Linked DNA regions of Homo sapiens. Each later gene encodes a partner of the first gene's protein in a complex. Each region holds a gene or a part of one and is shown in the gene's direction. Other genes may lie near its edges.

Region 1 (6,879 bases):
GAGGCTTAATGATTGGGCATAGACGTTAGTTTTTTTTTTTTGGGGGGGGTTGTTTTTGTTTTCATGGTTTGTTTTTGTTTTTGTTTTTGGAGACGGAGTTTCGCTGTTGTTGCCCAGGCTACAGTGCAGTGGCGTGATCTTGGCTCACTGCAACCTCCGCCCCCCGGTTTCAAGCGATTCACCTGCTTCAGCCTCTGGAGTAGCTGGGACCACAAGTGCACACCGCCATGCCTGGCTAATTTTTTTTGTATTTTTGGTAGAGATGGGGTTTTACCATGTTGGCCAGGCTGGTCTCAAACTTCTGACCTCAGGTGATCCACCCACCTCTGCCTCCCAAAGTGCTGGGATTATAGGTGTGAGCCACCGCCGTCCGGCCTGTTTTTTTTTTTTTTTTTGAGACGGAGTCTCCCTCTGCCGCTCAATCTGGAGGGCAGTGGCACGATCTTGGCTCACTGCAACCTCCTCCTCCCAGGTTCAAGTGATTCTCCTGCCTCAGCTTCTCGAGTAGCTGGGATTACAGGCACCTGCCACTGCACCCAGCTAATTTTTTTAATTTTTAGTAGAGACGGGGTTTCACCATGTTGGCCAGGCTGGTCTCAAATTCCTGACCTCGTGATTTGCCCACCTCGGCCTCCCGAAGTGCTGGGATTACAGGCGTGAGCCACCTCACCCGGCCCTGTTTTTGTTTTTTAAAGATTATTTTAACTCTACTAATTTAAAGTTTTGAATAGGGAATGAGAAAGGAGAGAACAATGATTGAGCCCCTAGAATTTACCAGGGACTGTTTCTTTTACATATATTGTTTCAGTTACTCTTGTGAACTGTATTGCAATAATAGCTATCACTATTCCGTAATATACCATATAGTAGGCACTATGAGAGGGGATTTACTTTTTTTCTTCCATTTAACTTCACAGCAACTTTATTAGGTGACTATTATTCCCATATTAAAAAATGAGAGAATTGAGCTGGGATTACAGGCGCAAGCTGCCACGCCCAGCTAATTTTTTTTTGTATTTTAGTAGAGATGGGGTTTCTCAGTGTTGCCCAGACTGGTCTTGAACTCCTGAGCTCAGGTAATCCACCCGCCTCGGTCTTCCAAAGTGCTAGGATTGCAGGCATGAGCCACCGTGCCAGGACCAATAAGTGATAATTATGGGATTCATAGTCCTATAGTTTTAAGGCAACTTAGGGCACCAGAACTCTAAGGGAAGGCCTTCTTTTTAAAACTTTTTTTTTTTTTTGAATCACAGTCTCACTGTATTGCCTAGGCTGGAGTGCAGTGTCATGATCTTGGCTCACTGCAACCTCCACCTCCCGGGTTCAAGCGATTATCGTACCTCAGCCTCCCAAGTAGCTGGGACTACAGGCATGTGCCACCACGCCTGGCTAATTTTTGTATTCTTAGTAGAGACGGGTTTTGCCATGTTGGCCAGGCTGTTCTCCAACTGTTACCGGTGGAGAGTGTCCAGGTTGTTGAAATCTTGAACAAAGAATTGGGGAAAGCGCACAAAGCAAGGAAAGAATGAAGCAACAAAAACAGAGATTTGTTGAAAATGAAAGTAGGCTCCACAGTGCAGGGGCAGGCCCGAGCATAGGGGATCAAGAGTCCCGTTACAGAATTTTCTGGGGTTTGAATACCCTCTAGAGGTTTCCACTGGTTACTTGGTGTGCGCCCTATGTAAATGAAGAGGATGAAGTAAAGTTACAACGTCATTTAGTTGGTGTGCGCCCTATGTAAGTGGAGAGGACATTTCCTGTTATAGCTGAAGTATTTCCATTTGATTCAGTTCTAGGTAGTCAGCCTGAATCTACTTTACGTTCCCTGCCTCCAGACCCTATTCTCCTGCCTCCTGCCCACAACTCCCAGGCTCCAGTGATCTACCCGCCTCGGCCTCCCAAAGTGCTGGGATTACAGGCGTGAGCCATGGCGCCTGGCCAAAATGTAAATGAGTCCTCGTAAAGCAAAAAAAGTATTGTGAGTAATAAAGTTGAACTACGAATTAAAATAGTTTTTGTATATGTGTGGTAGTCCAGATTATCTATACATTTAATTACATTTTGTGTCTGCTATGAATTGACTTAAAGGAATTGTCGGATATGTCGTCTCACTCAAGGCCTCATTGTTGACAAGTCTCAATTTTTTTGGAATTTAGTTCCTTGAGCTGTAAATGAGAAGACTGGGCTGTATCTCAAAGGACACTGACAGCCAAAATAAGTTATGGCACAGGGAATTTGGCCAGGCCTGGATCAATCTTTGATGATAATAAAGAATGAATTCATAAAGCAGAAACATTAATTAAGCGAGAGAAGAGAGTTCTCCATCTTTATTTGCAACCAGAGCAGACACAATGTGTTTCCTGTCCTTTCTGCAAGTAGCCATGGGAAAGGGGGGGAGGGGAGAGAGGACAGGGACAGGATGTCTTTCCCTGACATGTCACTCAGCAGCCTAGATCTTTACATTTTTTCATGGCCATCAAGTCTGATAACCCACAAGTACGTCCTACAAAACGTAAGAATTTCAGATAACTTGTTAGGGTGACAAAATAAGTGCTTAATTTCATTTGCATTTGTTAAATTGTTTTCAGGGGCCTTCCTTTTTGCCACTGTTGTAGTGTGAATTTATAGTGACATATTGTCAGACTTCGGAGAAGGCAAATATTTACAGAGAGTAACTTGAAAGGACTTTGGTGTACCTTTGGTAGGCGGATGCTGTTGCCAGTTGGCAGGTGAATCGTGAAAGAAACTGGGAACAGGACAAGTGAAAACGGAGAGGGGCCAGGATATCTAAGACCGCGCTAGGGAGCAGAAAGGGAACTTGCTTTTTCAAGGTGGTGTAGCTTTTAAATTAAGCCTTTGTGATATTTGATTATACGCCAATCTTTGATGACAGAAACGATGTCATTTATCTTAATATTCCCAGCGCAAGAGAAAACCGATAATCAAAATATTTGTTCAATTAAGTAGAGTAAAAATCAGCGGGAATAAGATAGGAAAAATGAGACCGAAATAACAGAACATCTATTATTGGATGCTAAAACTTTTACAGGATTTACTGCAGGAGGACTGCAAAGGGAAAGAAACTTCAACGGAGCAGTTTTTCAGATGGGCTGTCAACAAACCACAATTTGGAAGCAGCAGCAGAAAGCTGCGGCGTTGTCTTAGAAAGGTGATCGGCGTTCCTTAGAAATGAAAACTGGTCAGGTAACAGGTTTGAGCCCCTCGAGTCAAAAGAGAAAGGCAAGAGCGACAGCGACCCGCAGATTGGCAGAATGGAGGAGCGTCTAGGGTGAGAGAAACTCCGAACACGAAGCCGAAGCGAGAGCACGCAGGGCAGCTGGCGGGAGAACCCCGGTCCCGCGGCCGCACCGGGTAGCTCGCTTTGAGCCTGTTCCTTCACAGAACGGCCAGGAAGCCTTAAAAGATGTGCAGCTCGGGCAGGTATCTTGGCGTGACAACTTCCGTGTGTGTGTGTGTGTGTGTGTGTGTGTGTTTTTGAATGCAACAGGGTGCGCCGCCCGCGAACTTCCGCGTGCGAGGAAGACTGGAGACCCGCCCGCCCGCGCCCAGCCGGCCCCAGAGGAAACCCGCTCTCCCCGCCCAGCCGGCCCCCTACGCGGCGAGCCGGGGCGGGGCGGGCCCGAGGCCACGCCCAAGCTGAGGCACAGCCCTACAGGCCGCCCGGGCCGCGCTAGCCCGCGCCCCGCCCCGCGACTACATTTCCCGGCAAGCCCCGGGCCGCCAGCGCGCCGCAGTTGACCCATTTCCCGGCCCGTCACGGGCTCGGCCGGCCCCCGCGCCCAGGAGGCTGCTCCCTGCTGACTGGGGTGTGGGCGGGAGCGGCGGAGGGAGGAGGAGGCGCTGCTTGCCGCCGCTGTTGCCTCCGCTGCTGGGCGCCGGGGCAGCTCCCCGGGTATCTGCGGCCGCCATGGACGAGCAGGCGGGTCCCGGCGTCTTCTTCAGCAACAACCACCCGGGCGCCGGCGGTGCCAAGGGGCTCGGGCCTCTGGCGGAGGCTGCCGCGGCCGGCGACGGGGCGGCTGCGGCGGGGGCGGCCCGAGCCCAGTACAGTCTCCCGGGGATCCTGCACTTCCTGCAGCACGAGTGGGCCCGCTTCGAGGTGGAGAGAGCCCAGTGGGAGGTGGAGCGGGCGGAGCTGCAGGTAAAGACCCTCCCGGCCTGGCCGTCTTCATCCCGCCTCTTTGCTCCCTTCCGCCCCGCCCCGGACCCTTCTCCCCCTCCCCCAGCCTTCTCGCGTCCCCTCCCCCTTTGCTGCCGCCCATCCCACCCGGAGCCCCGTCCCCTTCTTCTCTTCGCCTTTTGCCTTTCGCTGACCCCACCTCGACCCTGTTCTCACTCCCGCTCCTGGTGCGTTGTTTACCCTCCCCACGCCTGTTCGTCCGCCCCATCCCACTCTTAACTCCCAGACTCATTTCAACTCTCTGGCCATCCTGCATCTCAGGGCTGCCCTCTCGGTTTACTAATTGGGCTGGCAGTAGTTTTGAGAGACGCGGAGCAAATCGTCCGCTGCCCTGGTGTGCCCCTTCCTAGGTCTAGAGACAGTCTCCGCAGAACGTGCCGGCTTTGGCCCCTCTCTTCAAGGAAGGTGATCAAGAAGACAACAGAAGTTGTGTCAGGCCTTGAGTCGAGGCGAGAAGTTGACGTTGGGCAAAAGTGTTATTCATATATCAGATCCCTTTTTTTATATATGTAAATGTCTGTTCTCCACTTTCTTCCGACCCCCCGGCCCCCTCCCACGTTTCTTTTAGGTATTTCCAATTAATGCATTTTGAATGAAGGACCTAGATGATCGCAGTCAGAGAGAATGGTTAAGAGGTGGTTCCTGTTCTCAGAATCTGAAACTTCCCAAGGGTTAATTTTATGTTCAGTGTTTTGGGAGATTTTCTTGTGCTTTAAAAGGAACTAAAGGGACTTTGAAGTTAGTTACATTGCCTTGCATAATCTGCAAGATAAAGTATATCCAGGGAGGAGATAACTGTGGGCTCTGAAAAGAATGAAAGTGAGGCTGATACTTTACAAGCCATTCAGAATTGGTGAATAGGTTTTCAGTGGTTGTTCTTAAAACTTCCAGGGCATACACACCAATTTCAAAAGGAACTTAAAGAACTATGAATAGTTGTGCCTTTCTGTTTTACGGGCTAAGCCTGTATACTTATGAAATTTGAGTATAGTTTTAGTTGGCAAAACACTTGAGTTTAAAATGCTACCCAGTGTGTCACTTTTTTTGGTAACATGTATTTGGCGCTTAAGAAAAAAAAGAAGAGGAGAAATCTGTTAAATAGAATCATGTGCTGGAACAGGCTCTGGTGTAGTGGAAGTGGCTGTGGAAAGAGCGAACACACAAGGCTGTAGTAGACAAGGTTATAGTAAGGGCTGTGTTTGTTGCTAGCTCTGTGACCTTGAGGAAATCCTTTAACCTCTCTGGGTTTCAGTTTTATCATGTATTTTATTCAGCACCTGTGTATTGAGTGCCAGCTGTGTGTCTAGGCCCTGTGTTGAAAGAAAACCGACCAAGCTTCTGCCCTCATGGAGTTTATGTTTTAGTGGAGAGGCAAACAGTCCAGCAAATGCGCCTATAGAATATAATGGCTTATAGTGGCAACTGCTGTGAGGAAGAAATAAGTCAGAGTTCAGGAATAGCGTGTGATAGGGGCAGCTATTTTAGATGGGGTAGTCAGGGTAGGCCTCTGAGAGATGACAAATGAGCAGCTGAATGAAGTTAGGGAGTGACCAGTAGTTTCTATGATTTCCTTGTAAGTCTGTAGTTACATGTTTATATTATTTGGCAACTTTTTCATTCCTATTGTTATATTGCTGTAGTATTTAGTCGATCTAGTCTATCTGATATTTGCAAGTCTTCTTTGACCTTGTTTATATAGTCTCCAACAAATTTGAATACTTACAGATTGATCTTTATTAGCAGCGCATTCTATAAAAGGTGTGGATTTCAGGATTCAAGGAAATGTTAAAGGCAAAGTTTAACTTTAATGTTGTGCAGTTGTGGGGAATGATTTTTGTATTAGTTACTTAAAATTTAATTTCTTTTCCAGTTTTGGGAATATAGATAACTCACACTAATTTGGTTAAAAAAAAAAAAACAAAAACAAAACACACACACACACCAGAAAACAATGCTTACCTTTCTACCTGTAGAAGTTGGGGAATTCCAACCCATCCTTCCCCCCGCCCCGCCCCGTTCACTCCCTCTCCTCGTTTAAACTTTTCAATTTACTGGTAACTGTAGTTGATCTTCAGTTTTTATGCACACATCTCCAAACACCCCTTCCTGGGTTGTTTGTGGCAAATGTTTATTAACTTCAGGTAGCTTTCCCATGGGTGCTTATCATATTAAAGAGACTCCTTTTTTTTTTTCCTTTTATTGGAGAGAGGGTCTCGCTCTGTTGCCCAGGCCGGTGTGCAGTGGTGCAGTCTTAGCTCACTGCAACCTCCGCCTCCCAGGTTTAAGCAATCCTTCTGCCTCAGCCTCCCAAGTTTAAGCAATCCTTCTGCCTCAGCCTCCCAAGTAGCTGGGATTACAGTCATGCACCACCATGCCTGGCTTATTTTTGTATTTTTGGTAGAGACGGGGTTTCACAATGTTGGCCAGGTTGGTCTTGAACTACTGACCTCAGTGATCTGCCTGCCTCAGCCTCCCAAAGTGCTGGTATTACAGGCGTGAGCCACTGTGCCCGGCCAAGGACACTACTTTTTTGACAGCATTTTCTGTTTTGTGTTCCAATTAAAGTTTCCACAGAGAAACTTTAAAAATGTGTCATTTTCCTAACAGGATGAATATGATATATTTTGGGGGGAAGAGTTTGCAGTAATCTCTGGTCTTTGTCCCCCCTTATTAGTGTA
Region 2 (7,025 bases), on another chromosome or scaffold:
TTATGTAAAGAAACTTGATAGTTACCATTAAATTCGGATATCTCAGCCTTCATCTGGGCATATGTGTATAATTTGTGCGTATGGACACACAGAAAATTGTATACAAATAGATCGTTTCATACATTTTACACAAAACAGGGCTTAACATGAGCATGATGAGGTTTGGGGGCCAGCCTAGAAGGGGTTCCTTGAATTTCACAAAATTATCTGTAGCCCCTGCCTGGTATTTGTCAGGTGGAACTTCTGAGCAGTGAATTCATAGCTTTCAGTAGCTTCTCAGAGGACTTAGGAGCAGAAGACATTATTTTTATGAAACCGCAAGGCTTCAACAAGGGCCCCCAGGGTCTGCAACTGAGGTTGGGACTCAGGCTTGCTGTGGAGCTGGGCTGGGACCCAGGGATCCTTCTCCTACCTGGCCAGGGTCTCCCAACAGAACATTCTCAGTGAGGAAAGTCCCAGTCAAGCCACGCTTCCTTTTGGGAAGCAGTTCCCTGTGACCGATGTGCCTGACGTTCATGTCAGCCAGCAGACACATCCTGGGGCTGTCTGGGCCAGGCAGTGCTGGAAACCAGAGAAGAGTTAGATCAGAATAGCTTGTGCTTGCTCGTTGCCTGCAGTGCACATCCCAAGAGCCTTACACAGTTGTATACTGATGTTAGCTGTATTGCCCAGATGAGGAAACTGAGGCACAGGCAGATTTAAGTGAATTGTCCGAGCTGGGAAGAGGCAGAGTCCAGATTCGATCCCAGGCCCCTAATTCTTAGCCACTCCTATGTGCTATCCTCAGAGGGCTCCTGGTTGCTTTCAGAGCTGTAAACAAGGGAGGCAGGGGGGTCCTTAAACCCAGGGAAGGCGCCTAACCTGCTTAGGTGGGATGGGAAGTTGTCAGGGAAGGCTTCCTGGAGGAGGTGGCTGTTAACCTGGATTTTGACAGGTTATAAGAAATAGAAAATGGCTTTGTGTAGTTTCTTCATTCCACAAACATTGAGCAAGGTCTCTAGGCTATGGAAACCCAGAGATGTGTCAGACCCACTCCCGGCCCTTGCTCTCAGCAGTGGTGAAATGGAATTAATTACAGAGACTCCTGTAGCTGCAGTGTAAGGATTGTTTTTTTGTTTGTTTTGTTTTTTTCCCGAGATGGAGTTTCACTCTTGCTGCACAGGCTGGAGTGCAGTGGCGGGATCTCGGCTCACTGCAACCTCTGCCTCCCAGGTTCAGGTGATTCTCCTGCCTCAGCCTCACGAGTAGCTGAGATTACAGGCGTGTGCCACCGCACCCAGCTAATTTTTGCATTTTTAGTAGAGACGGGGTTTCACTTTGTTGGTCAGATTAGTCTCGGAATCCTGACCTCAGGTGATCCACCCACCCCGGCCTCCCAAAGTGCTAGGATTACAGGTGTGAGCCACCGTGCCTGGGTGTGAGGGTTGTTTCTGTGTCAGCAGCTCTTTTTATTTTTATTTTTCTTTGAGACAGAGTCTCGCTCTGTCACCCAGGCTGGAGTGCAGTGTTGTAATCTCAGCTCACTGCAGCCTCTGCCTCCCGGGTTCAAGTGATTCTCAAGCCTCAGCCTCCCAAGTAGCTGGGATTACAGGCACCCATCACCATGCCTGGCTAATTTTTGTATTTTTTGTAGAGACAGGGTTTCACCATGTTGGCCAGGCTGGTCTAGAACTCCTGGCCTCAAATGATCACCTGCCTTGGCCTCCCAAAGTTCTGGGATTACAGGCGTGAGCCACCGCATCCGGCCAGCAGTTCCTAACTCTTTTGGAATTATGGATCCCTTTGAGAATCTGTTAAATTCTGGACCCTCTTCTTATAAAAGTACACAGGATTTTAGGCGGTTCACACTCTTCCCTACCCTGTGTGGTCTCCAGGTTTGAGAACCCTTGCCCCCAGACTTCACAGAGAGGCTTCACAGTAGTGAGTCTTCACTGTGCAAAGGCATCAATTGCAGTTTCTTAAATGTGTACCTTCCTGGGCCCTGCCTCCAGATATTCTGATTGTTTTGGTCCATGCTGGGATAGGCCTCCGGGTGATTCTGCTGCAGGGTGGTCAGGGATCATCCTTTGAGAACTACTTCCTGCAGTAACCTACAGGAGAAGAGAACCTTGGCTTACATAATTACTGCTCAGCCTCTGTCCCAGGCCTCCTTATAACAGATTGCCGTAAGTTCCACCGGTAGTCACTTGGCAAGTGTTGATTGAGTACCTTCTCTGTGCCAGCCCAGGTGGTGGGAGAACTGAGGTGAACAAGAGGAACTCTGTCCCTGCAGTATCCCAGTCACACCGCACCTATGGTCACACTCCCATGATACTGTCCTGAACTTGAGACGTCACGATAGCATGAGGACCTGTGACAGTGACATTATGCTGGCTTGCTTAGTATTACATTTTTCCTTTGAATCATTCATTGCAACTATTTTTAAATGCTATTTTTAAACATTTGTTTTTATTCTTAGTTTTACTGTAAAAATATACATAGAATGTGCTATTTTAATTATTTTAAAGTGTGTAGCTCTGTGGCGGTAGGTTTATTCACATTGTGCAGCCATTATCACCCTCCATCTCCAGAATTTTTCACCTCCTCAAACTGAAATTCCAAACCCATTGGACATGAGCTCCCCCTTCCCTCTCCCCCAGCCCCTGGCAGCCACCGTAGGAGTTTGACTGTTCTAGATTCCTCATATAAGTGGAATCAGAAAATATTTGTCTTTATGACTATTAGCTAATTTCCCTTGGCATAACATCTTCAAGGTTCATCCATGTTGTAGCATGTGTTACATGAGACTTCTCACATACAAGATTCTTGAGTTTTTTTGAGGGCTGCATTTGGAAAACCAGATTTGCTTATTGCCAGCTGCATTCTCCCATAGTGACAGTCCTTGGAGCTGGGGAGCACCTGCCCTCCCTGGGCTACATGCCCTCCAGGGTGCCACAGTGCCTGCCTCTTCCTATTCATGCCTCCTGCCACCCCTGCCTGTCACCTTGGCTGATGGCATCATTCTGTTACTTGACTGAGCCCTGGAGGCATTTCCATTTATGATTTTTTTTTTCCTGCTTTAAATACCTGTCAGCCCAAGTTGAATTTCAGATCAGAGACCTCCACACCTTTATTTGAACATATTGGGATAAGTTGAGTCTCCCTTCAGTAGGTCACTAATTAAGAGTTCCTGTCTTGTGCTAAGAGTGCTGCTGGGCTCTGGGGATACAGTGGAGAGCCAGTCGTATGTATCTGAAGGAGCACAGTCATTCTAGGCCCACAGTAACAACCAGCGAGCAGTCCCGAGCCCCATAGTCCCCCAGAAACATGAGATCCCAATTCAGTCACCAGAGCTGTGTGTAACTGTTCATGGGAAGCTTAGGTCAGGTTTTCGATCCTGACCTGTAGCTATTACTAGCTTGGGCAAGCCAGGCTGTACCTCAGTTTTCTCTTCTTTTTTTTTTTTTTTTTTTTCTTTTTGAGACGGAGTCTCGCTGTGTTGCCCAGGCTGGAGTGCAGTGGTGCGATCTCGGCTTACTGCAGCCTCTGCCTCCCGGGTTCAAGGATTCTTCTGCCTCAGCCTCCCGAGTAGCTGGGATTACAGGTGCGCACCACCACACCCAGCTAATTTTTTTGTATTTTTAGTAGAAACGGGGTTTCACCATATTGGCCAGGCTGGTCTTGAACTCCTGACCTCGTGATCCACCCGCTTCAGCCTCCCATAGTGCTGGGATTACAGGCGTGAGCCACTGCGCCCGGCCCGTTTTCTCTTCTTTAAAATCAGGACTTGCTTTATAGAATTCAGTGAGGAAGAACAAGCACCCCTGGTACAACACGGAGGTCCTGCCTAGTACACACAGTGAGTAGATGTTCTACACAGTGTCAGTGATGATCATTGCACTTTGAGAGGCTAAGAACTTTCTCCTCAGAAAGCAACGTGTGTAATTTTAAGGTTTATGGACCCCAGTGAAACTCCTTCAAGGACCCCTAAATAAGAACCTTTGTGGAAGGCACGCTGACAGAGACCTTCTGCTGGCTGGCATAATATTACGTTTTTCCTTTGAGTCATTCATTGCAACCATTTTTAAAGGCTATTTTAATGAAGGTCGGGATGGGTAATAGGGAAGTTTTCTCTGAGGAGATGAGCCCATGATGGGGTGCAGGATGGGGCTCCAGGGCTGCGGATGGTGGAGAGGGAGCTGTCCAGTGACTTTGTGTTCTCACCACAGCCACCGCTGGAGTCGCTGGCCACAGTGGAGGAGACAGTGGTGCGGGACAAGGCAGTGGAGTCCTTACGGGCCATCTCACACGAGCACTCGCCCTCTGACCTGGAGGCGCACTTTGTGCCGCTAGTGAAGCGGCTGGCGGGCGGCGACTGGTTCACCTCCCGCACCTCGGCCTGCGGCCTCTTCTCCGTCTGCTACCCCCGAGTGTCCAGTGCTGTGAAGGCGGAACTTCGACAGTGAGTCTCTGCCTCCTTGGAAGCTCCAAGCTCCCATCTCAGCTCCAACCTTCTCTAAAGCCTCAGACTCCTTTTGGTCTAGCTGGGGCCCAAATGCCCCTGAACTCTCTCCACTCCCACTCCTGCTTACCACCTGATAGGCCACATCCTCGAGAGTTGGTCTCTGGACACGGCCACGTGTCAGTTTACCCACCTCTGCCCCCTTGCTCACTTAGGAATTGAGATGATGACAGGTCCTCCTTCCCACTGGTTAATGTGAGGATTTAAAAGAATTATCACACATAAAGTGCTTAGAGCAAAATCTGGAACATAAAAACTTTCAGCAACTTACATCTGATGGTATCTCCAGCCTGTCCCAGGTCCAGTGCCTTTGGCAGATAAACCACCTCAGTTTTCAGCCTCCTGCTCGTCTACTTTGCAAACGATTGACCGTCAAGCCCGGGTTTGAGCCTGACTCACTCCAGAACTCTGGTTTATGGCTGTACACTTGCTTAGATACTTACACTGGCCCCCACCGCCTTTGATCGAAGCAATTGCTGCTGAAAAATAAAGCCTTTCTGTGGCTCTAGACCTGCCTCTTAGTTAAGCAGTTTTTTGTTTGTTTGTTTTTTGAGATAGGATCTCGCTCTGTCATCCAGGCTGAAGTGCACTGGTGCAGTCATAGCCCACTGCAGCCTCAACCTCCTGGGCTCAAGCATTCCTCCTGCCTTAGCCTCTCAAATAGCTGGGACCACAGGTGTGCAACACCACGCTGGGCTCATTTTTTATTTTTGGCAGAGATGGGGTCTCACTATGTTGCTCAGGCTGGTCTTGAACTCCTGGGCTCAAGCAATCCTCCTGCCTTGGTCTTCCAAAGTGTTCAGATTACAGGTATGAGCCACTGTGCCTGGCTCGTTGGTTAAGCAATTTTTATGGGAATGATGTAATCGTCAGCACTTAGCATTGACTAGATTTATTATGCGCAATCTGCGAAGTGTCTCACACACACTATTTTCATTTAAACCTCATGCGGACCTGTGGGGTAGGTACTGTTACTATCAGCTCCGTTTCATAGGGCTGGGAAGACAGAGAGGGGGTCATCACTTGCCCAAGGTCATTCAGCTAAAACCTGGACCCACACAACTGCAGAGTCTGTGCTTGCTCCTCTCTGCCATACTGCCTGCTGCCTCAGGATCCCCGTCCCCGACTCCCAGGTACTTCCGGAACCTGTGCTCAGATGACACCCCCATGGTGCGGCGGGCCGCAGCCTCCAAGCTGGGGGAGTTTGCCAAGGTGCTGGAGCTGGACAACGTCAAGAGTGAGATCATCCCCATGTTCTCCAACCTGGCCTCTGACGAGCAGGTGAGTTTTGCTTCCTGGCCCTCTGCTCTCCCGTCCTTCTGGTGGTTCCTGCCCATGAAAGAGAATCCCAGAGCTCAGCAAGGCCTCTGCTGCCCTCCCACTGTTCCTCTCCTCTCCCTAGGACTCGGTGCGGCTGCTGGCGGTGGAGGCGTGCGTGAACATCGCCCAGCTTCTGCCCCAGGAGGATCTGGAGGCCCTGGTGATGCCCACTCTGCGCCAGGCCGCTGAAGACAAGTCCTGGCGCGTCCGCTACATGGTGGCTGACAAGTTCACAGAGGTAGATGAGCGACCGTTGACATTGTCCCACTGGTGGGGACACTGACACTCTCAGAAGGGAAGCATATAGGAGCTGAGGTTTCCATTAGGCCGATGGAACCATTGGGCGTTTGAGCAATAAGATCTCTATGATCATCTAACTGCGTCTCGCTTCGTGTGCCAATCCTGGTTGATTGACATGGCATCTTAAAGTGCTGCCTTGAGAAAGATTCTGAGGCAAAGTTAAGGCTACGTGGAGGAAAGTGCCACAGGAGCAGAGAAGGGTAGCACATGTGGGGTGTTCCTGACATAATCAAGCTGTCCTTTCACAAAGGGGAAGACAGCCCAAAAAGGTGGGGTTTTTTGGTGTTTTTTTTTTTTTTTTTTTTTTTTTTTTTTAAGATGGAGTCTGTCGCCCAGGCTAGAGTCTTGTTACCCAGCTGGAGTGTGGTGGCGCAATCTTGGCTCACTGCAGCCTGTCCCTCCCGGGTGCAGGCATTTCTCCTGCCTCAGCCTCCTGAGGGACTGGGATTACAGATGCCCACCACGACACCCGGCTAGTTTTTGTATTTTTATTAGAGACGGGGTTTCACCATGTTGTTAGCCAGGCTAGTCTCGAACTCCTGACCTCAAGCGATCCGCCTGCCTTCATCTCCCAAAGTGCTGGGATTACAGGTGTTAGCCACCGCGCCCAGCCCCGGAAAGTTTAATTAACTGATCAGAGTGACACTACCAGCCAGGCAGAAAGGGGACAAGACTCCAGGTCTGTGACTCTCAGGACAGTGCTCCTTCCACAGGGATCCAGATTGCCTCATCCCACAAACATGTTTGCTGAGCACCAGCTATTTGCTGGGCCAGTGAATTCGGATCATTCCTGGCCTTCATGGAGCTAGGCAGTCTGAAGGGGAAGACTGACTTAGGGGAAATTTGATTATAAAGTGTCACAGGTGTGGGACAGACAGACAGATGTGGGGCCTTGGAAGCATTG
Region 3 (7,649 bases), on another chromosome or scaffold:
GGATCACAGCTCACTGCAGCCCAGAACTCCTGGGCTCAAGCGATTCTCTCACCTCAGACTCCTGAGTAGCTGGGATGACAGGCGCGCCACAATGCCTAATTTTATAATTTTTTTGTAGAGATCAGGTCTCACTATGTTGCCCAGGCTGGTCTTAAACTCCTGATCTCAAGTGATCCCTCCACTTTGGCCTACCAAAGCGCTATGATTACAGGAATGAGCTACCATGACCAGCTTTGACTTAGTCTTTTGACTAATTCATGTTTATATAAGAAAGCTGAGATTTTATAAGTTAATCTGACCTGAGACAGAGTGAAGCTGGCTGGTCCCTTTGGAAGACAGAATTAACTATTAGTTATCTGCCCTATTAGTTAATTAACCAAAACATTATTAATATTATCCTCTTCTCATAACCATTAATGGAGAGAACTCCATGTGACACAGTAACTAGAGGGTAAGACTGGACCCACAGATGTTTTATATGCTATACAGATTACTTTAATACTGAGCATTTCAGTGACCAGCAATGTATTTACAGTCCAGGGCTAGGATGGAAATTGCTAGAAACAGGCTCACTCTGCATCCCAGCATATACTTAGGTATCAATGAATGTGAAACATCTTACCCAGTACCTGACACCCTGTAGGCACAGAATACATGCCAGTTTCCTTCTACAGAGCCCAACTGGAGCAGCCACTATGTTCTTGCAACTCCTGCAATACTAGAATGGCTCAAATAGGAAATTTCTTCCTCCAGTCTCTTGAACAATGACTGCTCGTGGTGAAGGAAGGGCTTCTCACCTTGGGTATCACCTCTTGGTAATAATTCTCCTTTTTTTAAAAAAACAAACCAACAAACAAAACAAACAATGCTTTATAGTTTTCTCTTTTCTCTTTCTTTCTTTCTTTCTTTCTTTTTTTTTTTTTTTTTTTTGGAGACAGAGTCTTCCTCTGTCACCCAGGTTGGAGTGCAATGGTGCAGTCTCGGCTCACTGCAGCCTCTGCCTCCCAGGTTCAAGCGATTTTCCTGCCTCAGCCCCCTGAGTAGCTGGGATTACAGGCGCATGCCACCATGGCTGAAAATGTTACAGGAAAGGGTCTCAATCCAGACCCCAAGAGAGGGCTCTTAGATCTCTCACAAGAAAGAATTCAGAGCAAGTCCATAGGGTAAAGTGAAAGTAAGTTTATTATGAAAGTGAAGGTATAAAAGAATGGCTGCTCCACAGGCAGAGCAGCTCCGAGGGCTGCTGGTTGCCCATTTTTATGCTTATTTCTTGATTATATGCTAAACAACGGGTGGATTATTCATGCCTCCCCCTTTTAGACCATCTGGGATAACATTCTGGTGTTGCCATGGCATTTGTAAACTGTCATGGTGCTGGTGGGAGTGTAAAAGTGAGGAGGACAAGAGGTCACTCTCATCACCATATTGATTTTGGTGGGTTTGGGCTGGCTTCTTTACTGCAAACTGTTTTGTCAGCAGGTTCTTTATGACCTGTATCTTGTGCTGACCTCGTATCTCATCCTGTGACTAAGAATGCTCTAATATCCTGGGAATGCAGCCCAGTAGGTCTCAGCCTCATTTTACCCAGCCCCTGTTCAAGATGGAGTTGCTGTGGTTCACACATCTCTGACAAAAATACAGGTGGGATTATTCTCATTTTACAGATGGGGAAGGAAAAAAAAAAGAGAAGTGCATGAAGACACTTCTACAGCTTCTACTCTCTACTGGATTGTGCTTTTCGCAAAGTTTCCTAGCAAGTTAGAGTAGTGAGCTCTCCAGCTGTGCTTCTGCTCCTTCACATTTGGGATTCTTTTTCCTTCTAGATCTGTATATTCTGTCTTATGCATGCCCCATTCCATTAGTTAGCCATTTTTCTTTTTCAAAAATTTTTTTAATTTGATTTTTTTTTTTTTTTTTAGAGATAGGGTCTCGCTCTGTTGCCCAGGCTGGTCTCAAATTCCTGGGCTCAAACGATCCTCCCACCTCAACTTCCCAAAGTGCTGAGATTACAGGCATGAGCCACGGTGCCTGGCCCCTCAAAGTTAGCCATTTTCTTATTGGCTATTTTTCAAATTAGGTTGATCCCAACTTTACACTATTGAAAACACCATTGCCTGAATATTATCATACACCTATCTTTATCTAAATCTGATTATTTCCTTAGAATCTATTACTAGAAGTGGAATTATGGAACCAAAACCCTCCCTGTTCTAAATTTAGCTGAAAAATGTTTTTCCCCGGGTGATACAGCTTATGATAGGCACAGGAAGATAGGTAGGAGGAAATAGCAGTGTGGTGGTTTTGGATTAATTTATTAATTTACAACAAAGACTTTTTAAGCACCTACTAGGTTGGACCTCAGGGGAAATCACTGGAGAGTTGTATCACAGGGACTTTCTGGACTTGAGCCTGGGGTGTAAAGCAGGCAATATGTAAAGCTGGAGAGACAAAGATGGATAAAATGCCTTTAAGGATTTCACAGTATAACAACAGATAATAGTAAGAGTTATTATTACGCAACACTTCTAAGATGTCTGATGAGTATCTCAAACTTGATGTGTCCAAAACTGAAGTCTTGATCTTTCCTCTAAACCTGTTTTTCTTACTCTCGAGCTTACTTATTTATGAAAGTGATACAGCCATCCACTCAGTTGCCCAAACCTAGATCAAGGGGGTCATTGTTTATTTCCCCTACCCAGCTGATAAGATTCCAGCAAATCCTGTCCCCCTACCTACACAATATAGAAATATCAACCCAATGCTCCACTCTGGTACAAGCACCATCATCTCCATCTACATGGTCCCCTAACATGTCTTGCCTTATCCACTCTTGCAACTCTCCAATCCCTTCTCCAAAAGCAGCCAGATTGAACTTGTAAACATCACACCATAACATCTCCCTGGTTAACACCCTCGAATGGTTTTCCATTTCACTTAGAATAAAATTCAAACTCCTTCCCACTACCTTCAAGGCCCTGCATTCTTCTGGTCCCTGCATTATCATTATATGGCTCTATCAATTACTATCCCTCCCTTGGCTCACTCAATTCCAGACACTAACATCAGGGCTTTTGCATTTAGCTGTTTCATCTGTCTGTGTGCCCTTCCTGGAACTTTGCAGGGCTTCTCCTCACTTCTTTCAGAACTCATCTAAAATCACACCCTCAGGCCTGCCTTCCTTGGGCAGCATGCTTATATTATAGCCACATTCTCCGCCTCCACCAACCCCTGCCCCCCGCCCCACTGCCACCTTTTAACCTCTCAATTTTTGTTACTTCTGACAAAGATTCTCTTCTTTGGCCAAAACTCTAGTCAGGCTCCTGTGAGTCCTCTGCCTACTAGGACTAACCGTTTGGGCTTCCTTTCTGTCCTTGTTGAATCCAGTTTGTGCAGGGACTCTCCACTCTTGGCGTCTTAATCCATTTTTTGTTGCTATAACAGAATACAAAACACTGGGTAATTCATAAAGGAAAGAAAGTTATTTTTTGCAGTTCTGGAGTCTGGGGAGCCCAAAGTCGAGGGGTTGCATTTGGTGAGGGCTTTCTTAAACTGCATGGTAGAGAGCCTCTCACGGTGAGAAAGCAAGAGCATGTGTGCCAGCTCAGATCACTCTTCCTCTTCTTATAAAGCCACCAGTCCCATCACAGGGGCCCTACCCTGACGATTTTATCTAATCCTAATCACCCCCTCAAGGCTCCACCTCCAAATACCATCAACATATGAACTTTAGGATTGAGTTTCCAACGTATGGAATTTGGGGGACACAGTCAAACCATAGCACTCGGTATCTGACCACCCTCAACATCTTAGCACCCTGTCCTGCTTTCAGCAATAATCCTGTTAGGTCAGTTTAGCAAGAAACTTCTTATCCTTGATGTTTCTCTTAGTAGTTTTCCGTCCACTGACCCTCATCCTGCTCTTTGGTTATAAATCCCCACTATATCTTGTTGGAGTCAGAGTTGAGTCTAATTCCTCTTCTTCACTGCAAGATCTGGTTGTAGTGGTCCCTGTAACTATCACCATGGGCTCTCTTACATAAAGTCTGCCTTACCATCTTTAATTAGTGCCATGAACAAATTTTCCTTTAACACTTTTCAGCATTTATTTCTCTATATTTGTCTATTGTTTGTCTGACCCACCAAGCACTGTTATGTACCGTGACTGCAGACACTTGTTCCTCATTTTATCCCACTGCTTGGTGCACAGGAGACATTTATTAAATGTTTGTTGAATGAATGAATGACAAGCACTTGTCACAACGGTAACTCTGTGAAGACTAGGATCCTATCCATTTTGTTCATTACAAAATTCCGCCTAAGCCTTGAACAAGGCTATGAGTTATAAGTGCAAAGCGATTTAGAGGAAGGAGGGGTAACTAAACTGACTGAAGAAGCTAAGGGAAGCCTCACAGATAAAATTACATCTAAACTGAAACTGAAAGGAAGGTGGAAAACTAAAAAGATCAACAAGGGAAGGACTGCAGACAGAATATCGCGAGGTATTGGTCAGCCAAGATGGCTTCTAACACTGGCCGCCACACTTAATATGGCGGCCAGGGAAATTTCCTGGAGAAAATCACGCGAGAGTTGCATCACGGCGGCTGTGCGCGAGTTAAGCTGGGGGTGTGGAGCAGCCAAGATGGAGCCGGCAGTCGGCGGTCCGGGCCCACTGATCGTGAACAACAAACAGCCCCAGCCCCCGCCACCTCCGCCGCCGGCAGCCGCACAGCCACCACCCGGGGCACCGCGGGCCGCCGCGGGCCTCCTGCCTGGGGGCAAAGCCCGCGAGTTCAACCGCAACCAGCGCAAAGACTCAGAGGTCAGGAGCTTCGGGGGGCGAGGCTCGCACCGGGTCGGGCGGCGCCGGGGGTCCCGGGCCCGGGGCCACTCTAGGGGCCAGGTTGGGCTTCCCGGAGGGCTCGGTAGAGTCCGGCCGAGAACTGTCACTATACAGCGAAAGGAGCAGGAAGCGAGGCTGGCAGCTCCTGGGGTCTGGAGCATGAGTCCTTGCTCTAGCTCCGCCGCCCGGGAGAGCTTCCCGTGGCCGGCGACTGCTGGTTTGCTCCCCTGGGCCCCGACTGTGGGCGTGGCCTCGAGGCCCTAGCCCCTGGGGAAGCCGCTCTCGCCCCAGCTCGGGGGTGAGGAGTCGGGGGTCTTGGTGCACTCCAGGGCGCTGGGCTGCCGCGCCCCCAACCTAATCATCTCGGGCGTCTGTCCCTGGCACGCGGGCTCCAGCTCCTGGGTCCTGCCGCTCGCAGAGGAAGGCGCGTGTGGGCAGGGAAGGCGCCGGCGAGGATCTGGAAGGAACTTAGAGCCGGACCGAGCTAATTATCATTGAGAGTAGAGTAGGAGGGGGAAACATGTCCTGTTCTTCTGACCTGAGCCAGATCAGGCCATGGGTTAACAGTACCTGTGGTGGGCTATTGTGCCCAGTGCGCCTGATACTGAACTGTTAAAGATGAGAAATAGACATTTTAAGCATGCGTTAGGACCCAACATTCCTTCCTGTCTCGCTAGTGAGCCGTTCCTGCCGTTCTGGAGATGGCATAGTCTGGAACTGACTAGTAACCTCACCCCAAGTTAAGGAATTCCTCCCACTGCCTCCTTTTGCAGAATTCATGAATGAAGATACTCATGTCGCGGAGTTTTAGGGCTTCTTAATGAGCAGGTTCCCAGAGCACTTACTATGCCATCTCCTAGATTGATCAGCAGCCAAACTGATCAGCCAAGTTAATGAGAGGGAATTCCTAGTTGTCCAAGCATAATGTACCAATTCATACCAAAGAGCAATGATACTACCTTTAGACCTGTGGAATCAGTTCCTCAGAAGCTTTTATTTTTTGTTAGCAAGGCTAAACCCCTGAGAAAACATGTCAACAATTGGCAAGCCCGAAGTAGACGTAATTTGAGCTTGGAGTGAATTATTTGAAAAAAACAAAAACACTGACCATTTAGGAGCCCTGGCATGGTGGGATGACGGACATCAGTGTTAACTACTCAGTTTTTCAAGTGGAAGATTACGAAAGTGCAGGGGGGTGAACCTACCTTCATCATGAGAGGAGTTATCATTTTGAAAAATGGTTTAAAATTTTCCAGAGTAGCTACGAATGGTCAAATAGATACCCTCTGACGAATTGTAATTTCTCTTTGTACCCTTTAATTTCCACATAGAGGCCGGGTGCAGTGGCTCACGCCTGTAATCCCAGCACTTGGGGAGGCCGAGGCGGGCGGATCACCTGAGGTCAGGAGTTCCTGTCCAGCCTGGCCAATGTGATCAAACCCTGTCTCTACTAAAAATACAAAAATTAGCCGGGCGTGGTGGCTGGTGCCTGTAATCCCAGCTACTCAGGAGCCTGAGACAGGAGAATTGCTTGAACCTGGGAGGTGGAGATTTGCAGTGAGCCGAGATTGCACCATTGCACTCCAGCCTGGGTGACAAGAGCGAAACTCTCCCCGTCTCAAAAAAAAAAATTTCCTCATAGACTCATTACATGAAAGACCAGTCAAATGGACACATTTAAGCAGAGACCTGTCTAAATCCATTTCTTTATAGAGAGTCTGATGCCATGATCTTTCTTTAGTCATAGCTGAAATCGGTAGTTTGGGAGCCTGATCAGTGAATGCCTGGAGGACAGGGAGGCTCACATTTGATGAGAGCCCACTATGTACTACATAATTTTGATTAGTCCTTAAAAATCTTCAAAGTAGATTTTCATCATTGCCATTCAATGAATGAAGAAACCGAAGCTCAGTAACTTGTGAAAGTGTACACTGTGTTATCTCTGAACACAACGTGGAGTTCTTGTTTGTGGGTATGTTTTTTGTTTTGTTTTGTTTTGTTTTGAGACAGAGTCTCTGTCTGTCTCCCAAGCTGGAGTGTAGTGGCGCGATCTTGGCTCACTGCAACCTCCACTTCCGGGGCTCAAGCGATTCTCCTGCCTTAGCCTCCCGAGTAGCTGGGACTACAGGCACGCCCCACCATGTAAAAATATATTTTTAAAAAATTTTATATTTTTATTAGAGACGGGGTTTTACCATGTTGGCCAGGCTGGTTTCAAAGTCCTGACCTCAAATGACCCGCCCACCTCGGCCTCCCAAAGTGCTGGGATTATAGGCATGAGCCACCTCGCCTGGCCATTGTGGGTATGTTGTGTCATTTTGTGGCTGGTCTTTGTCTTCCCAGGTAGACTGTAATTAAACCTAAGGACTTTACCTATTTGTTTCTCACTTCTCTCTTCCCAGTACAAGGCTTCCAAGATGGTGTGTTCTCAGTAATCACCTATTTCCAGCAGGAAAAAGATTGTCTTTGTCACATTTTCTCTTATGTGTGGGAGGGAAGTTGATCTGTTTGGCGGCTGCCTTCTTTGTCAGTTCTCACTGAAATTTGAGACAAAGGTGGGAAAGCTGAGGGTTTCAATACTCATTTTTGTCCTGAGCTGTTGACAGTCCACTAGCCAGAAAGAAGTTAAGACTTCTGGAATCATAGCATCATATGGAATGGTCATTTACTGCACAAAATACATAGAAACCTTGTATTTATTCATTTAACAAATATGTGTGTATAGACCATTCATTCATTCACTTATTCATGCCAGGTACCATGCTGGACCTTGTGAAATCATTGGTAAGTTAAATGGATGATGTTCTTGT
Region 4 (7,025 bases), on another chromosome or scaffold:
TCACGCCTACCTAAATGTGGCCACCTGGTAGTCAGTTTTCACGTCTCAATTTAAATATCGTTCGTCAGGGGAGCCTTGCCCGCCTTCCCAAAATCAGAATAGGTTTCCGCCATGTATTCACCATACTCTGTACTCCTTTGTGGCATCATCATAATAGAAACTTAATTATTTCTGTATTTATTTGACAAATACTGTCTCCTCACTGGACTATAAGCTCCCTGAGCAGGGCCCTCTCATTTGTCATGTTTTACCCCACTACTTACGCAGTACCTGGCACATTGTAAGGGTTCAGTAAATATTTGCTGAATGAATGAAGGAGTGTATTCATGCACAGTGCTTCCAGCACTTCTCTGGGGACAGAAATAGAGAAATGAATAAAGCGGATATGCTTTCTGGATTGAAGTATATAAGAACTTTCAAATGAGCCATAATGCTTAGGCAATTTAGGTTATATGTAAAGGAGTCATTGACAGAATTTTAATATAAATTGTGGAAAAATGTTTGTTCTTTTTGGAGGTCTCTGAAATCAGGATTAATTTTCTAAGTGGAAATGATAAAGGAATCACTTTCATTTGCCGCAGAATTGCTGTGTAACACAGCATTTTAGAGACTTATCACTGTCCTGCTTTTTGCAAGCGATATTCATTATAACAAAATATAGACATGGAAGAAACTTCTAATGGACTCTTCTTCCCTAATGTTGTCTCGTTTTGCCCTAAAAACCTTTATTTCCTCTAGGTAGTAGTATTAATACTGTTTTATAGCTGAAGACATCAAGAAAATAAGTAAATTTACTTATTAAACTAAAAAAAGTTTAATTAAATTGCTAGAGTTTCCAGAACGTTGGTACTGGAACCATGGTTAGAATCTGGATCTATCTCCGTATTCTAGAATCCATAATTTTTTCTTTTTCTTTGCTTTTTTGTTTTGTTTCTTGCTTTTTAACCTTGCTATCTTCCTATGAATTATACCTTTAATATCACTTGATTTAGACAAGGTGGCTTTGTAAAATTGAGTAGTTTTTGTTTCAAAGGAACTTATATTTTGGGTTTCCTGAAAATTTTTCTAATACTTTTCTAATCTTATTTGCTTTATAGCTGGAGACTTAAGCATAAAAAGATTATTTTTAAAACATACAAACTGAATTTTAGGGATAAATTGTGTTAGGTTTTGGTCTTGGAAACAAGTTCTGCAGTCATTTGTAGTACCACGGTATGGCATAGAGTAAGGTCAACAGCCCTGAGTTTCTGTAGCCTTGTATGCCTTCATGGATTTACCAGTTTACTCTTCCACAAGATCTTGTCAAAAAGAGATTGCTGATAATTTGGCTTTAAAATTTGGTAATACTATCCATTTTATTATTAAAAACAAGTCTTTGCTAAATCCTAAACTTACTTTTTAAAAAGTCAGTGTTGATGTTACTTGAATCTTGGATAAAATTTTCATATTTACCTAGCATAACCAGTATGTGGAGGATAAAACTGAAATACTGCTTTTTATATGTTGTTGGATAATTAATATCATTATGATAGGTGTTACTAAGAATTTTAAGCCACTTACATGATAAGTAATTTTTTCCATAATATAAACTGTAAAAGTGATTTAGAAGTTAAATGTCATTGTTATCTATGTTATTGCATTTGAAATATTATAGTAAGCTGCAGTGTTAGAGGGTTATGCTTTAGGGACACACACACACACACAATGCAAAAAATGAAAGCACATTTATTATAGCAATTAGAAATAATTTATGTGCTGAAAGATAAACACTGTGGTTTGATGGTTCATTTTTGTCTGTATGAAGATGGTAATTTCAATTTTGTCATTTAAGCTACAAAATTTAAATGTGTCTTAAGTGTATTATATTACACTTATTTTTCAAGCTCACCCTTACATTTTTGGTTATGTATAACCATTTTTAAAATCACCCAAAAGTGATTTTCTGCTGTTCAGTTTCATTCTTATACAGTTGATAGAATCCAGGTTGCCTATAGGGTTAAAAGAAAAAGAAAAGAATTTTATTAACAAGCTTATGAACTATTGGGTAACAGCAGTGGAACATGTTAAGTGGTAGTCACTAACATATACTTAGGCTGGTCCCTTGGGAATAAGTTTACCAGAGGTTAGTCTAAATAATGACTTTTTGATTCATTTACTTATTGAATGCATATTACTTGTGAAATTGCCTTAAACCTTCTTTGGAATGAACTGGAACCTAATATAATAGCTAGCATTTATTGAGTATTAAGTAACTAAGTGCCAAGTCTCATGCTAATAAGCATTTTACAGGATCTCTTATAATCCTTACGACAACCCTTCGAGGTAGAGGCACTATTATCTCCAGTTTTTAAATGAGGAAACTAAAGTACAGAGAGGTTAAGGAACTTGCCTACGGTTGCAGGAAAAATTGCTTGGAATTAGGATTTGAATCCAGGCTGGCTGACTCAAGAGACCATGTTTTTCATCATTATAGTAAAAATGATGTTAGTGATTGAACTGCATTGGAGAGAGAAATTAGCATTAAGAGTTGTAGTTACAGAGCAGTTATGTCTTAAATGCTAAGGTCAGTGTGGCAGGCAGAAATTACTTAATATTCAAACTTTTTAAAAAACCTATTAGGAAATACACGTTGTAGACTAACAACTTCAACACAGCCAGTTTTTTTCTAGCATTGGAGTAGATTTCTTTTGAGTACCAGGTGAAGTGTTTGACTTGTTATGCAGAGACCATATTGAAAAAAGAAATATGTATATTATAATACAAGAGTCACAATCAGTGTGGCAAGCTACTCTTTGTGAGAGCTCACTGTGGCTCTCAGTCTGGTGTGGGGAGTGGCAGATCCACGTTTCTTATCTGTCTCATTCTGGGACTTTTGCATAGGGAATGGAATTATCACATACTGCAGTAGTTATTTTTAGTGAAGTTATTTTTTTGTTTGTTTTCTTCAAACAAATGTTCACCATGTCTGTTGAACTTGCATAGGGTAGGAGTATCATGTGAAGCAGGTACGCTCCCTGGAGTGTTAATGCCAAGTGGCAGTGTGACATGTCACTGTATTTCTTTACTGTCTCTCTTCCCTGCCAAGACTACATACCTTCAAGGGTATGTGCTGTTTGACTTTTCATCACCATATCTCCAACTAACACTGTTGCTGACTTAGACTGACTATGCAGAATACTGTGTTGGATACTAGGAAATAGAGAAATGGATACAACTTCTCTTTAGGGAGTTTATACTTCAGTAGATACAAGGGGAAAGGGTTGAAAGACCATTGTATGGACATTTAGTCTTTCTAATATACTAAGTACTTCCATGTGCATCAGTTCATTTTACAATTTTAGGTTAGAGCTGATAGAAAAATAAATGATTGTTTCTCTAACTGCCATCTGGTCCCTGGCACTGAAATGGGTCTCCCTGTCTTATTCAGTCATTCTCTCTTACTTCAAGATAGACTGGAATTCAACTGAGATTGAAGTTATGGAATGACAAAACCCTAAGATGTTACACACCGGCTGCCTCCTCAGACTTATATAAGGTTACTACAACAGAAGCCAGTTGGGAATGTTAAATGAGTCAGACCTGGCCTCTAGACAGCAACTGCACCCTATACGAGTTTAGATTGTTGCTAGGCTTTTTTTCATTTAATTCCAAAGCATTTGGAATCCTTTTTTTTTTTTTATTGAGAACTGCACATCTTTCTCTATGTCTTTATCCATATTAAAATCGGTATTTATGCAGTACTGTCAAAATTTGAGAGATTTCCAAGGTTCTACCTTATTTTTGGTATGCTCCCTTAAAAAATAAATCACACTTTTGCGAAGTGAAGGTTACAGGAGGAACAGTAGATGCAGTAAAAACAGATACTATCCTAGCCCTAATTTCTTCTTGTAAGAAATAGTATTTGTATTTGAGATCAATTGGGAGCTAAAGGTAAAGTTAAATGTCATCATCAAGATAGAACCTTGGCCTCATTAGCACCTAATGTTAAATAAGGCAGAGGCTATTTATTGTCTGGGGCTAATAGTTTCTGTCAACATTTGAGTGCCCTGTGGCAGTGTTTTTGGTGCAAAGAAATTGTGTAAAGTAATGAAAGTACCTGTTGCATGTTTTAGAGGATCTTAAGCCATTAGGAGTCATTAAGTTAAATTCTAGGTATCTAAGATTATAAGTGATACAAAGCAAGTAGCTCTGATCCAGGGTGGTACAGATTCTTTTAATTGTACCTTTAAGCAGAGAGGACCTAACACTCTGAGGAATTAAGTTTAGTTGAATTTCTAAGGGATTTTAAAGGAAAGCTTTAATTAACATCGTATTGGAGAAACTAAGACAAGGAATAATACTAATAAAAAGGAAAATAGACATGTACCTCAATTAAACACCAAACAACTATTCAACTAGGCATTATTCATGAACCATTAGGTTGAGAACTTTATGGGCAAAAGATGAACATATTCAAGGGGACAGATTTGTTTCCTGTCTTCCAACAAGTGTTTTCATTTAAATTTTACTCAGATCAGAATTTACCAAAAATTTAGACATAGGAAAAAAAAATGAGGATTGTCACAACTAAAGAGATGTATGTTTTTCCCCCTGAACAAGTTGCTTTGAAATATCGTAGGAGCCAATTGTTACTATTTTGTTACTGTTTCCATTTCCCATCAGCTAATTCTGAGGTAATGAGCTCTTTAATTTTGTTGTCAACTTTTGATTATCTTGTACAGATTATAAACCTTTTATGAATTATCTCAAGGGCTTTGATCACATCTTGATTTCAGTGTGCAACCCAGCCTGCTACCCAGCCTGCTTCTGGGCCATGGTTTCCTTTGTTAAGTTTATCTATGTACATTTAGAAAAGTAATTTTAACATTGGTTTGGCAAAAAGTTTTAAAATGCACCTGATGGCCAAATTCTTTTATGTAAGCCAAAACTAAGTGTATTTATGCATCCATTTTGGCAAATGGGAGATAAAAGGTTTTGAAAATATGCTATGTAGGTGGCCTTTATGACATTGTGATATCAGTGTTTGACTCTCATTGTGTATGTTATGCAGGGGCAGGACTAGGGTGAGGCAAGAGATATGCCTAGGGTACAAACTTTGAAGAAGCACTAACTCTCTCAGTCATGCAAATCAGAGCAAAATTTTGTGTTCTAGGCATCTGGTTTGCCTCACCCTAGTTGCAATCGATTCCATGTCAGGTTCCTAGAATTTTGGCTAAAATATTAATAACAATATGAATAGAATGGTTATTATGTGTTAGCCACTGTAGTAACTATTTTATATGCAGTTAGTACTCTTAATCTGGGGAAGTGAGTACTTCAGTATTTCTGTTTCTCACTAGTTTAGAAATAGAGATTTACAAAACTGAAATGATAGCATCCAGCTGAGCAAAAATTCAAACTGAGGTTTTTTTCCTTCCAAACTGAGCACTATCTCCTGCTGTATACTGTCTATCTATGTGTAGAAAAAGTTACTTCTTACCCATTTTATAAATTTCTGTATTAAGAAACAGTACTCTGGCCAGGCACAGTGGCTCACGCCTGTAATCCCAGCACTTTGGGAGGCTGAGGCGGGTGGATCACCTGAGGTCAGGAGTTTGAAACCAAACTGACCAACATGGTGAAACCCCCATCTCTACTAAAAATACAAAATAGCCAGGCGTGGTGGCAGGTGCCTATAATCCCAGTACTCGAGAGGCTGAGGAAGGGGAATCGCTTGAACCTGGGTGGAGGTACGCCACTGCACCCCAGCCTGGGTGACAGAGTGAAACTCTGTCTCAAAAAAAAAAAAAAAAAAAAAAAACAGTACTCTACAAAATATGTAAGTGCATACACTTGACATGGTGCAGTTAACTTTTAAGATGAGCTGGAAGTCTCAGCAGCACCAAGTTGAAGATCCACAAGCTTGTGCTGCTAAGTACCCTAGAGTTGTCAGACATATTAAAGAAGAAACCAAAGGATAGAGAGGTGAAATGACTTGTTCAGAGACAAAGATAGTTTATGAATGACAGGACCAGAATTTGAGCCCATGCTTTGAGACTTTAAATGCTTATGCTTTTTCCCTGTATCTTTCTGCACAAATTGTCCATTTAATATTTTTAAAGCATATATATATATATATATATATATATATATATATATATATATATATATAAACGATACAATGGTAAAGTGCTATATACACTTACCATTAACAAGAGATTGCTTCTAGATGTCCCTAAGTGTAAAATTCTGTAAGTACTAAACTGACAGTAGTGTATGTTCAGGGAGGTTAGGTTCCACTTAACTTTATTAAGAAAACTGGAAATGGAAGACATTGAATTATAGAAGATGTAATTTGCAAGTCAAGGAGAGAGATGTAGGTATATCCTTAAGACATCAAGCTCATTTTACTCTAAGTAGGATCACTGACTTACCCTATTCCTCTGCCTCCCTTTTTCCTAGCTTTCTCCTCTAAATCTTGGTCTCTTGTTTGGAAGTGACTAACAGCATTTTGGCATGAGAAAGCCCTAAAAAGGTACGTAAACTGTGTCAGCAAATGTTAACCCCACCCCGCTTTGTTAAATGGCCAGACTACCATCTATACAGTCTTTGTAAAAATCCATTTTCTCTAAGAGTTTGATGAGTGATTTTTTTTTTTTTTTTTTTTTTTTTCTTTTTTGAGACAGAGTCTCGCTCTGTTGCCCAGGCTGGAGTGCAGTGGCACGATCTCGACTCACTGCAACTTCCGCCTTCCAGGTCCAAGCAATTCCCTTGCCTCAGCCTCCTGAGTAGCTGGGACTACAGAAGCCCACCACCGCATCTGGCTAGTTTATGTATTTTTAGTAGAGATGGGGTTTCACCATATTAGCCAGGCTGGTCTTGAACTCCTGACCTCAAGTGATCCACCTGCCTTGGCCTCCCAAAGTGCTGGGATTACAGGCATGAGCCACCGTGCCCAGCTGATGAGTATGATTCTCTGTGTTATATTATTGAGAGAAAGCAAGGAATTGTCAGTTAATTGAAATCCTGGGTTAACCAACTCTTGG

Evidence for each region.
Region 2: STRN (region 1) and PPP2R1A share a complex: the UniProt entries of both Homo sapiens proteins name them as parts of the core of STRIPAK complex.
Region 3: STRN (region 1) and STRIP1 share a complex: the UniProt entries of both Homo sapiens proteins name them as parts of the core of STRIPAK complex.
Region 4: STRN (region 1) and PDCD10 share a complex: the UniProt entries of both Homo sapiens proteins name them as parts of the core of STRIPAK complex.

What each region holds. Positions count from the first base shown.
Region 1 is NC_000002.12:36,963,513-36,970,391, reverse strand, and holds the start of STRN (striatin), read left to right. Parts: upstream 1-3,855; 5' UTR 3,856-3,928; coding exon 3,929-4,162; intron 4,163-6,879. UniProt on the Homo sapiens protein: Calmodulin-binding scaffolding protein which is the center of the striatin-interacting phosphatase and kinase (STRIPAK) complexes.
Region 2 is NC_000019.10:52,207,052-52,214,076, forward strand, and holds part of PPP2R1A (serine/threonine-protein phosphatase 2A 65 kDa regulatory subunit A alpha isoform), read left to right. Parts: intron 1-4,208; coding exon 4,209-4,441; intron 4,442-5,634; coding exon 5,635-5,782; intron 5,783-5,903; coding exon 5,904-6,059; intron 6,060-7,025. UniProt on the Homo sapiens protein: The PR65 subunit of protein phosphatase 2A serves as a scaffolding molecule to coordinate the assembly of the catalytic subunit and a variable regulatory B subunit.
Region 3 is NC_000001.11:110,030,000-110,037,648, forward strand, and holds the start of STRIP1 (striatin-interacting protein 1), read left to right. Parts: upstream 1-4,624; 5' UTR 4,625-4,638; coding exon 4,639-4,818; intron 4,819-5,409; exon of another isoform or gene 5,410-5,440; intron 5,441-7,649. UniProt on the Homo sapiens protein: Plays a role in the regulation of cell morphology and cytoskeletal organization. Required in the cortical actin filament dynamics and cell shape. Part of the striatin-interacting phosphatase and kinase (STRIPAK) complexes.
Region 4 is NC_000003.12:167,724,890-167,731,914, reverse strand, and holds part of PDCD10 (programmed cell death protein 10), read left to right. Parts: intron 1-6,441; exon of another isoform or gene 6,442-6,514; intron 6,515-7,025. UniProt on the Homo sapiens protein: Promotes cell proliferation. Modulates apoptotic pathways. Increases mitogen-activated protein kinase activity and STK26 activity. Important for cell migration, and for normal structure and assembly of the Golgi complex.